3 separate regions of the Homo sapiens genome follow, and regions 2 and 3 are each linked to region 1. Evidence: fine-mapped expression QTL. A gene starts in region 1. Each other region holds a variant in brackets. All regions are shown on one strand. Distances are between the middles of the regions.

Evidence for each region. PIP is the estimated chance that this variant, and not a neighbour inherited with it, causes the effect.
Region 2: its variant is the best candidate, but not a certain one, in a credible set for the expression of NAALAD2 in putamen (GTEx, PIP 0.69).
Region 3: its variant is the best candidate, but not a certain one, in a credible set for the expression of NAALAD2 in thyroid (GTEx, PIP 0.56).

Annotation. Positions count from the first base shown.
Region 1 is chr11:90,132,207-90,136,452 of GRCh38, reverse strand. It overlaps NAALAD2 (N-acetylated alpha-linked acidic dipeptidase 2), which reads right to left and starts at 1,790. Exons shown (of 19, transcript NM_005467.4): 1 at 1,613-1,790; 2 at 783-894. The coding sequence starts at 1,694. RefSeq lists an enhancer at 1,183-1,886.
Region 2 is chr11:90,108,330-90,112,575 of GRCh38, reverse strand. No RefSeq gene overlaps it. Among named protein-coding and RNA genes, the nearest start is that of NAALAD2, 24 kb to the left of the region's middle. The variant T/G (reference allele first, on the strand shown) is at 2,593.
Region 3 is chr11:90,086,799-90,091,044 of GRCh38, reverse strand. It overlaps UBTFL1 (upstream binding transcription factor like 1), which reads right to left. Exons shown (of 1, transcript NM_001143975.1): 1 at 3,914-4,246. The coding sequence ends at 3,914. Among named protein-coding and RNA genes, the nearest start is that of UBTFL1, 3.0 kb to the right of the region's middle. The variant T/AT (reference allele first, on the strand shown) is at 2,491.

The sequences.
Region 1 (4,246 bases):
GATGGAGGGGGATGGGGAATAAACTGCAAAGGGCATAATGGAATATTTTTGTAGCATGATGGAGGAGGTGGTTTGTTCAGCATAGCATACGTCTGTCATAACTCTCAAATTGTAGGCTTTATAGGGATGCAGTTTATTTTATGTAAATTATACTTCACTAAAGCTGATTTTAAAAAATAACACCCATTTGAAAGAGTCTGAATACAGAAATAAATACCATGGCCATTGTTCTTAAGGAGTTTATGATCACTCCCCCAATTTCCACTGTTTTTCATGGTTAGAAGCTGGAGGAATGGCAATGATTCTTTTTGGTTTCATTTTGTCTTATTTGTAAAAAACAAATTTATACCTGCAAGATGGGATAAAGGTTTAACTTTTGGCAGACAGAATCAGACACTTTGATCACTTTTCCACTAAATCACTTAGTCAACCATCATCTAACTTTCCCTGACAGAATATGGTATCTAAGAAAATTGCTGATTAAAACCCAGGCACTGATGAACAAAGAATAACATTCAGTTAGATCCAAAGTTACATGAAGTTGAAACATCTCTCAATAAGCCAACCAGATACTTTTTGTTACATAAAGTTAGGGAAGAAAGACCTACTTTTTCACCCCAAGACTGGTGTAAAGAGACATTAAAAAAAAAAAAAAAGTTGATGACTAATATGTAATTTCACACAGAGAAGACTGTCCTCATGCATATAACCAGGTATAATATGCTTCTCACTGTGATATTTTAAACATGATTTTTAAGATCAAATACGTAAAATAAACTTACCGAAGAAATGATTTGATGTTTTCAGCTTTCATTTCGGATACCAGTTTCCACCGTATACTTTGATGATAGCGCACAGAAGTGGTCGTTTCTTTGAGAGGCTTAATAAACCAGCCTAAGGAAAAAAAATACACAAACATGCACACATACACACAAAATCACTTTGACTTTATTAAAACTAGAAGCCACCCCTCTGTCCTTCCCCCCAAAAAGCCTTTATCTGACAAGTAGATCATGGTGAGCTTTAAAAAATAATGTTTATATTAAATGCAGAAAACCTGTAAATTCTGATATGTAATATAATTTTTAGATGCTTAAAAGGAGTTTTATTTAAGAGAAGCTCTTTCATTTTCTCACGTTATGCATGAAGGCATGGCTTTTGTTGTTCTTCCCTGGATCTCTAGTCCCTGACACATAGGGAACATTCCACAAATATTTATTTACGTATAGAGCAGGGTTTTGTTTTGCTTTGTTTCGTTTTGCTTTGTTTTTAATGCTGCCCGTATTAGTTGAAAGTTTTGACTCACTAATGTTGCTTGGAAATAAAACGATTTTTTTTCATCCCTGCAGACAGTGACAGCTGTAGGTTGTCTTTAGTGAACTCAGTGAACATTTAATAAATTTGAATTTCAAGCACACTTTATCTATTAGCAAGCCCAAAATACATTCCATCTGGTTTCTAGTTTTGCTGAAATGTGCAGAGTTTATCATATCTAGCCCAGCCGGCCAGGGCTAGCGCACAGCCCAATCCCTTCCAGCTCCAGGATTTCTCCCTTTATCTCTGCAGAGAATCACGAGCCCCGGAGTCGGGGTAGAGTGTTTTGTTCACTTACCCACCATAAATCCCATCAGGAAAGATGCCAGCGCAGCAGCCAAGCACATCCAAAGGTACAGACGGCCCCTGGATTCCGCCATGGCTTCTTGAGGACCGAGCTTGGGGCGCCTGCTACATTCGCGAGCTTCGGGGCTGCAGAGAAACAGAGAGCGCGCTGGCAGGAGGCTGTGAGCTCTGGGTGGCCTCCGCTGACCTTCGCAAGGCCACGCCTCCGCCCTACCCGCTGGGGACCTGTGGTCCCCAGGGGCCCTCGATGGGGGAAAGGAAGCCCTGCAGAGGGAGGAGACATTCTTCCTGTTGGCGGGCAACTTCCATTCTGTGGATCCCGCAGTAACCCGGACATAGTAGGTGGCGGGAGCTGCTGAAAACGTCCCTAATTTTTTCCTAAAGAACTCTACTGCTGTTTGCCATGCCCATCCCCCAAAATGCCCAGTTTCGGCTCAGAAGTGAATTTAAGTATTGCTTTTCCTGATCTATTGGTTATTCTTCTTCCAGATTCTCTGCTGTAATTTCCCACTCGTCAGACTCGGAAATGATTTCTGGTCCTGGGTGCTCCGCTGTTAAAGCTGTTAACATCACTAATACCGCAATCACTGTCAGCATCAAAATCGATGGGATTGCGTTTTTTTGTTCCCCTTTACTTAAACAAAACTCCACATTTCTGTAATTCTGTTTCCACTCATTTAACTGAGGTTTTTACCTACCTCACTGGAATGTTTTAGGTTCACATTAGTAAAAGTAATCACTGAAAGGACCTTGCACTGCCAGTAGTTACTGAGAGTCTGTTCTTAATGCTAAAGCTCAGACACCAATTTCCCAAAATATGGTGCTTTGACATGCTAAACCGAAGAAGCCAGGGGGTCTCTCTGACCATACCCCTCTCTTCCAGCTCCTCTCTCTCAATCCTTTGTCTCTCCCATAGCACAGAATAAAGCTGTTCTCTAAAGTTCCCTTATCTGCCTAAAGTCCAGAACTACTAAAGGCAAAAACAAACAAACAAAAAAAAAAAGAGTTTCTTTCCTGAGTTTTCATTAACCGAACTAATATCTCAGGAAGAAGGACTGCAGTCTGTCAATACAACTGGCAGCCTTCTGTTACAAACTCTCGTCTGCCCTGTAGGGCCAACAGACTTTGTCCCAGGCCATTGCATATTCTTCAAGCCCATTGAATTTCCCTAAAATTCATTTACTACCCTCTTAAAATTATACACACATTCTCATCTTCCTTTCCTCTAAAAAGATGGGTATATTATCATCTGTACCTCATTGGTTATTGGGTAATCATTCTACTACGATTCCCTTATGCTATGTTATTCATAAATTTGTAAGCCTTTTTTTTTTCTAATAGTCTGCCTTTTGTGAGTTGATTTTCCAGCAAAACTTCAGAGGGTGAAGGGGAAGCTTTCCATTGACCCCTACATTAGCAATGGTCCCTGTCATTCCCCTGTCCTCACCATGCTACATTCATGAAGCATTTCTCTTTAAAGATGGGTTTGCAAAATAGTGGCCATTGTAAATAGCCTTCATCCAACCATCTCATCTCAGAGAAAAATTTTAGGAATTTATGATTGGCTTCACGTATCTAACCAAAAGTAGTTTTTTCAGCCAAAGCAAAACTGCTATGTTGATTTCAAAGATGGTAGTATATCTAGGATAAACTTCACAGCATTGTCTGCAGCCCTGATAGCTTTAGGTAATGCACCTTTGCTCCTAACAAGTGACTGGAAGAGTGAAATTTATTTTTCTGGGACATAACTTTTTTTTGTCCTTGTATTTCAATGGCTATCAATTGAACATAATTGTTGATAGGTATGCCTAATAACTTATTTCTTGAAACTTTTGTAGCATACCTGGTACTTAACTTTGAAGCAAACCTCCTTAATGAACTGTTGATTTCTAAATGTTTGCATGCAATTTAAGTCCCAACTAACTTCAGCTTTTTCAGCTACTAGCCTGTTAGACATTCCTTGACTGACTCCTCCAGTGTTTTTTATTTTAGAGAGAAACATCTTTCAAAAAACATTTTCATAACAAAGTGAGTTTGTTCCCCCTTATATGCATACACACAACACCAAATATAGGGAATTAGAATAGAATTATTCAAAAGGTTCAATATCCAGTGAAGTAACTAAACCCCTCAAATATGGCTTAAGAAACATTTTCCAAGAGCACTCAGAATTATTTTTATGTGTGACATTATGAAATAATACTGGGATTTTAATAACTCTCCAGTGTTTAACAGGTGACACACAAAGGTCTCAAACAATATCAAATGTTATTTTTGTACATATAAACATTTTGGGTATTGATTGTGTAATTTGTCAATTTTTAGACTCTTGGCTTTTTCTATTTGCTACCCATTGGACCATTCACTGTTGACTACATAGCCCTCAAGAGGCAGATCAAAATTATCTCCAGGAAAAGATTTACTGAAGAAAGAGAAGGTAGAAACTAATGAATAAAGTTGCTAAGCTATTTATTAAATTTATTTTTTCTTGCTCATTTTGTGTTTTTTATTGCTAATTGAAGTTTGAGTAATAGAATAAATCAATGCATTATTTAACACAGTTTGCCAGTTTGAATAATCTCCCTAAATTAAAATTAGATTAAAGAGTTCCAAGAATGAGCAATGT
Region 2 (4,246 bases), 24 kb after region 1:
ATTTTTAAATGCATGTACCCATTTTGCTTGAAGGTGTGTGCAAGTATGCTTGTATTTTTTTAAACGATAATATGGTCACATGAGCATATACTTTATTTTTTAAGAGTTTATAGTTACCCAACACAAGTTCTTATTGATTCCCTCATTCTTAACACCTGCACAGTATTTCATTTTATAATTAATGGATTGTAGGTTTATTCTTTTAAAATCACTTGTGTTGTTCTCATGTTTTTTTTTTTTTCACTAAAAAGTGTTGCAATGCACAAAACTACAAATATAAAGAGGGTCTTCTCTGGATCTCTGTTGAAAAACTTTGAATAAAAATTACAAGTTCAAATCACACGTAAAATAAACATTTTAATTCATAGGGCTTTTATGCAAGATGCTAGTAGCAGCAGCACAGTTTTATTAATATCCCTGAATCTCTCACAAAAATTGACTGAGCAACTGGGATAACAAGGTATTAACTATGACAAAACAATGTAACAGGGTGTCATCATGAACCTTTTGTGAGGTTAAACCACAGAGACCCAGGGGAATCACCAACTGTTTTGGAAGAAGGAAAGGAAAGGAAAAAAATCTTTAATGGCCCTGGGAACTGGAAAAACTAGAAATACAATTGCTAACATCTATGTTCCTAAATTCAGAGATTCCTACTAGGCAAAAAGAACTTAGCAGATTAATCTGAGAACAGCAGCTGAGGCTGGCAGAAGGCTTCCTGGGCCTCAACTCACAGCTGAGAGTGAGGATGGCAAAAAGCAGTGCTGTGAGTGGTCTGTATCCTATGAACCCTACAAATTAACCACCCCCAAAACAAAGCCCTGTCCTAAGGAGAAACTGCAGGAAGTCAATTATAAATTGAGTTGGGAAGGACACTGAGGCTCAAGAAAAGAGAAGCTCCAGGTTAAGATGCAAGAGAAGAAGGGAAAAGGCAGTTTTCTGCAAGTTCAAGCACAAATAATTTCTTTACCTTCTAGTTCTGGAAATACCAGGTGCCGTCTATGTAAAGCAGGAATTTTGGTTGAATATTATATAATTTTCTGACCCACTGTTACTAATCCAGTCTCCCCTGTACTCAGATCTTCCATGCTGCAGACAGACTGACAGATGCTCAGCAAATAGTAGCTAATATTTTCTAGGAAACTAGGTGCTAAACGAGCTTTCTTAAATTTCTACCTCCAGGTCTGTAAGTTGATTTGAACCATTACCAGTTCCTGGTTCTGCACAGGTTGTTGAAGGCAGGACTTCTCTCCTTCAGTGGAAACTCCACCTGCTCACAATCAACCATCCTTTCCTGCAGCCTTGAGACACTACTCAGTGCAGCACCCCTCCCAGTCTAGAATAAGCACACTCATCATCAATCTCTCTCATTTTCTGTCTTATCTCCATTCCATCTACATACATTTTTTGTTTGTTTTTGCCAATGTTTTTAAATAAGCAACTGTACAAGCACAACAATGACAACAAAAACCTTCCTCTCCCCAGTGTCGTAGTGAGCAAGGAATATATTTAACTTCAAATAAAAGACAAAAACAAATGCTGGATAAAGCTGACAGAAAGAAATGCAACTGTAGGTGCTCTGGCAATATAGAAATGATACAACTAAGAAAAATAGAAGAAAAGGAAAAAGAAGGTATTCTGCAGAATGATTTTACTGACTGCTCGTCTGTAATGCCTGGGAGTCAAAGGATACTGTTTATAGAAATGTAGGCATACTTAATGGCATCAGGGGAAACAAAGTTAATATTATTATATCAAATTGGGAGATGAAAGATCACATAGGGAAGACAAGAAAGAGTTAATACCATTGTTCTTAGTTTAGAGACATTAGCTACTGTCTAAAGAAAGAGATGATTTTATGAAGTTACATAAGGTAGCCATCAGAATAAAAATTTAACTCTTCCAAATATCACAACATCAAAACAAAATCAATAAAAACAAACAAGGCAGCAAAAGAAGATACGTGCATATAGATCATAGCATAACATGCTGTAACCAAAATATAACCAAACAGAATTTACCAATAAAAGTAAGTGGGCTTGACTCTCTTATTAGAGGAAAAAAATATTGTCAGATTAAATCAAAAAGGAAAACTCAGTTCTATGCTGGATATAACATAAAGTGTTTCAGAAAGTTTAAAAATAAAAGTACAGGCAATGAATAAAAGGATCTTCATGCGTTACAGAGTATAAAACAGTGAGTAAACACATCATACGTTTTCTCTTTTTACACTTAAATGGCTGGAGATGTTACACCACTAGTATGAATTTACTTCAGATATGTAACGGATACACTTTTATGTGATTAGAAACAGAAATGATAACAGTTAAGGATAAAACAACATCTGCATTGACGCTAGGAAGAAAGAGCCATTGTTGGGTACATAGTGATCACATTACCATGGAGCAATCTGTTCCCAACTGAAATTTCCTTGCCCTTCTACTGAAATCGTGTACGATTCTGCAAACATAATGTTTACTTCCCACAAATCAGCCATTAGCTCTGCTATTGTTGTCCACACAGAATAAGCATCAGACCTAGATTTAGCTGTTGTATCATTAAGAGTCTTATTTGGCCCTTTCCAGAGGCTGT[T/G]ATTTCTATTATATTTTGGATAATTTGTCTATTTCCAGACAAATAATTTTTCCAGAATGTGATGAGTAGATACACTTTGATCCATATGAAAAGACCCTTTGGTAGAGATCCAGGGATTGAGTTTATTTTTAATTACTATAGCATCTTGGTCAGGTTGAGAAACAGATCACCTTTATAATTCCCTGGCATGTGAGCAGGGCTAGACTTAGTGTGAAAATGCTTGAAAGTTTATAGTTTTTTAGAAATTTTATTTACTTTGTGTCTCTTTGTCAAAATAAAATTAATGCTGAAAAGCTATATTAAATGAATTTCTTTGAGATGGTCTCTTCCCCCTTCTTCTAATGAGAGGATATCCACAGATATGTCAGGAGCTTGCTTTACCTAGAAACGTGTTGAGGGCCACAGGTTTGGGTTCACCTAGGAACATTTAGGGACACCTTCCCAAGTTGTTGTTGAAGAGTGGGGTAAATGTAAGATAGAATTAGGCTCACAGAGGCCTGATGAGAGCATCATGTCACCCCAGAAACACAGCATATACCTAGGAGAACTGTTCTCAGTATCAATGTCTTAAGCACTGTAAGATTGACTATAGACCAAGACAGTAACTACATATATGTATAGTTATATATATTAACTATATATATACTTAATAAAATCAGTTAATATATACACATATATTTATTTATTTATTAACTTATTTTTATTTTTATCTTGAGACAGCGTCTTGCTCTGTCACCTAGGCTGGAGTGCAGTAGTGCAATTACGGCTCACTGCAGCCTTGACCTCTGGGGCTGAAGCTCTCTTCCTGCCTCAGCCTCCTAAAGTGCTAGGATTACAGGTGTGAGCCACCTTACCTGGCCCAGGGCAATAACTATGCAATGCTTATATAATTTGGAGCAAAAAAATATTTGAAATATGTATGCATTGCTTTTTAACCTTTTCTATTGATTTACTTTATTAAATACTGAATAGAAACAATATATTTATAAAATATTTATAATATATATATAGAATAAGCACACAATGAACACTTGTGTCTCCAGTCTTGGTTTAAGAAATTAAGCCAAAAGTAATCATAAGTGCTTATGATTACTTTTGAAGTCACCTGTACAACTTTTGCTGACTACATCCCCTTCTTCAACACTCTAATGATGGCCACTGTGAGCACTGTGTATATTGAATTGTGTTTTATTTTAATACTGTGTGCACTACATTGTTTTTCCTAGCTGCATGCTATTGCATTTAGTGAGCATAATGAATTATATCAATATAATTCACTTTTGTCATTTCATTGTTTCAGCTTTTCTGTACTAATTATTGCCAATATATTTCTACTGGCATAAAAACAGACACACAGGACAATGGAGCAGAATGGAGATCTCAGACATAAATCTACACATTTACAAACAACTCATCTCTGACAAAGGCATCAAGAACATACACTGGGCAAAGAACAGTCTTTTCAATAAATAATCCTGGGAAAACTGAATAACTAAATGAAGAAGGATAAAATTAAACCCCTCTTACCATATACAAAAATCAAATCGAATAAAAATAGATTAAAGACTTGAATCTAAGACCTGAAACTATGAAGTTACTAAAAGAAAGCATAGGAGAAATGCTCCAGGACATTGGTCCGGGCAGATTTTTTTGC
Region 3 (4,246 bases), 45 kb after region 1:
AGAACAGAGCCCTCAGAAATAACGCCGCATGTCTACAACTATCTGATCTTTGACAAACCTGAGAAAAACAAGCAATGGGGAAAGGATTCCCTATTTAATAAATGGTGCTGGGAAAACTGGCTAGCCATATGTAGAAAGCTGAAACTGGATCCCTTCCTTACACCTTATACAAAAATCAATTCAAGATGGACTAAAGACTTAAACGTTAGACCTAAAACCATAAAAACCCTGGCAGAAAACCTAGGCATTACCATTCAGGACATAGGCATGGGCAAGGACTTCATGTCTAAACCACCAAAAGCAATGGCAACAAAAGACAAAATTGACAAATGGGATCTAATTAAACTAAAGAGCTTCTGCACAGCAAAAGAAACTACCATCAGAGTGAACAGGCAACCTACAAAATGGGAGAAAATTTTCACAACCTACTCATCTGACAAAGGGCTAATATCCAGAATCTACAATGAACTCAAACAAATTTACAAGAAAAAAACAAACAACCCCATCAAAAAGTGGGCCAAGGACATGAACAGACACTTCTCAAAAGAAGACATTTATGCAGCCAAAAAACACATGAAAAAATGCTCATCATCACTGGCCATCAGAGAAATGCAAATCAAAACCACAATGAGATACCATCTCACACCAGTTAGAATGGCCATCATTAAAAAGTCAGGAAACAACAGGTGCTGGAGAGGATGTGGAGAAATAGGAACACTTTTACACTGTTGGTGGGACTGTAAACTAGTTCAACCATTGTGGAAGTCAGTGTGGCGATTCCTCAGGGATCTAGAACTGGAAATACCATTTGACCCAGCCATCCCATTACTGGGTATATACCCAAATGACTATAAATCATGCTGCTATAAAGACACACGCACACGTATGTTTATTGCGGCATTATTCACAATAGCAAAGACTTGGAACCAACCCAAATGTCCAACAATGATAGACTGGATTAAGAAAATGTGGCACATATACACCATGGAATACTATGCAGCCATAAAAAATGATGAGTTCATGTCCTTTGTAGGGACGTGGATGAAATTGGAAAACATCATTCTCAGTAAACTATCGCAAGAACAAAAAACCAAACACCACATATTCTCACTCATAGGTGGGAATTGAACAATGAGATCACATGGACACAGGAAGGGGAATATCACACTGTGGGGACTGTTGTGGGGTGGGGGGAGGGGGGAGGGATAGCATTGGGAGATATACCTAATGCTAGATGACGAGTTACTGGGTGCAGTGCACCAGCATGGCACATGTATACATATGTAACTAACCTGCACATTGTGCACATGTACCCTAAAACTTAAAGTATAATTAAAAAAATGAAAAACAAACAAACAAAAAAGAATTGTACCTTTAATCTCTGTATCCCACACAAGGAGGGCAAGTCTTAAAAAGAGTAGGTGCTGAATAAACTTAAAAACATTTCATTTAAAATCACTACTAAAGCCCCAATTGAATTTGTACATCTCACCATCTAGCCTGGGCTATGGGCCTTACTACTAGTTAGTGGCAAATGTGACTTACATTATCTCCTGAATTGGAAATAAAAAGAATCAGATCTTTAAAGTTAATTTTGCAAACTTGATGTTAAGAGAAACAAAGGACATAATATGCAAACACATTTTCTAAATAAGTTCAACCCATTGGCTGGGCTCGGTGGCTCATGCCTGTAATCCCAGCGCCAAGACGGGTGGATCACAAGGTCAGGAGATCGAGACCATCCTGGCTAATGGTGAAACCCCGTCTCTAATAAAAATACAAAAAAAATTAGTCAGGAGTGGTGGCGGGAGCCTGTAGTCCCAGCTACTCGGGAGGCTGAGGCAGGAGAATGGCATGAACCCGGGAGGTGGAGCTTGCAGTGAGCCGAGATCTCTCCACTGCACTCTAGCCTGGGCAACAGAGCCAGACTCTGTCTCAAAAAAAAAAAAAAAAATTCAACCCATCAGCCATCTAGAATTCGTATAAAAATACCTAAATCTCCAGAATCTGTAAGAAAATGAAAGTATGATGGTAAATTGTATGTGTCAGCTTGAACTGGTCTCTGTAAAGTAGGCTTCCCTCCCCAGTATGGGATGTGCATTATCCAACCCATTTAAGGCCTGCATAGAACAAAGGGCAGATGATAGAGGAGTGTGACCCTTTCTGTCCTGTCTCACTGCTTAACTAGTATATCTCGTCTTATCTTCACCTACACTTGAATTAGGGTTTACACCATTGGCTGCCCTGCTTCCCAGGCCTTCAGACTCAGATTGAATTACACCTCTGGCTTTCCTAAGTGTCCAGCTTGCAGATTGCAGATCATGATATTTTTTGCCTCCACAATTTTGTGAGCCAATTCTTCATAATAAAATTAGTCTCTTTGTCTCTCTCCTCTCTACTATTCTATCACTCTCTCTGTCACTTTGTTTCTCTATCTATGTTGGTGGTTCTGTTTCTCTGCAGGATGATGACTAATACAGTAAGAAAAAA[T/AT]TACATAAATATATGATAAAATAAATTTGTTAAAAATCGATATGCATTAAAAATTAAAAGCAAATAATAATAAAAGTAAATAGCAATTTTCTTATTTTTAATAATTTATTTCAAATGTACACATCAGCATAATTTTCATGATTTTAAATTCTGTAAGCATTAGGTTAAAAGTCAGAAGCAAGCCAAGAACAGATTATTGTTGTTACTTAACATTCTTCTGGATATTTTAATCCAACACATTTAGAAATTAGAGGTATAAAAATGGTAAACATTGCCATTATTCTCTGAAACTTATTATTTATTTAGAAAAAACTTATAAGTAAAATTTTCCTAAGATATCTAGGGACAAAATAAACACTCATTATTCAATGGTTTTTATACAAAAAGAATACAACTAGTTCTGTGATGCTAATATTCATGAGAACGAAGTATGAAAATAGCCAGAAATGTTTAATAGAATAAAGGTATACTGAGAAGGCACTAACTTTAGGTAGATTTTCAAACATATTAGTAAACCAAAAAATTAAAACAATGTGACACTGGTGCATGAATTCTTAGATAGAGCAGATAGTGAAACAGGATAGTGTACTCATCTATATCTGTCTTTCTCTACATCTTTGTATCAATCCTGAATGCTAAAGGTGAGATTCACTTGCACCTGAAGCAGCAGGAAAAATTTGGAGCTTCAAGAATAAATGAAGATATAACTTAGAGAAGCTGCACCCAGTGTCACAAATGATTCTGTGGAGGAGCTCTTTCAGATTAAATCAGTAACTTTTTATTTTGTATTTTCATTTTTTTTTTGAAATAAGCAAGAAAAGTCTAATTGAGAACTGAGTCAGATATACATGTAGAAATATTACTCCCTACTCCCAGGCATGGGAATGGCCAACTCCTTACTTCAGGGAGGGGAGGAGAGAGATATCAAGAGTGGGACAATTCTCTTAAGACACCTACCCCACCTTTCATCAAATATCCCCGACCTTAGATTTAGTGCAGGAGTCCTGAAAAACATTTCCACAGGGAAGTTTGGGTCCCAGGCTTATGGGTATCCCCCTACCACCTTTGGCAGGACAAAAATGAGTAAAGCAAAGCTTCTTGCTTCAGAAATATTCAGTCTAATACAGTGTGTACCCCACAACGTAATCATCTCTTCATTTCAGAAGCCTTAATTGCATAAAGTTCCTCGGGAAAGGGATGATATTTGTTTGTTTGTTTTTTTAAGGATAAGGCCAGTATTGGCTCAAACTTATATTTATTCTTCCCAAAGAGTTCCTCCCAGGTTCATAATCTTGATGTAGGAGAGTGCTGCACCAAGTTGCTTCTTTCTTCCCAACCTGTCCTACTTTGCGGGAGGAAGGAAGAAAAGAAAACAAACAAACAAAAAAAAAAAAACAAGGAAGCTGCACTAGAGCCACTGCCCTCAGACATCAACTTCTATTTCTTCTCCACTGCTGCAGTCTGAAGAGTTACTGCTTTCTTCCTTTTCTCTATCTTTCTTCCTGTTCTCTTCTGGTTCCATGGAGACATGACAGTTTACCCAAATAGTCTGTGATGAATCTGTTCCTGCAGCCTGGAGCCCTTGCCCCTCCCCAAACCCTTCTTGCAGACCCTTTGCTGATGAGGACTGTGGATCTGCTTGTTTCAACCTGGGGTCCGGGCCTCCTGTCATGGCCATATTCTTACCCTTAGCATAGGTCGATTCTTTGTATGCAGCATAATTTTCAGGTGACAAAGTCTTGAGCCAGAGATCCAA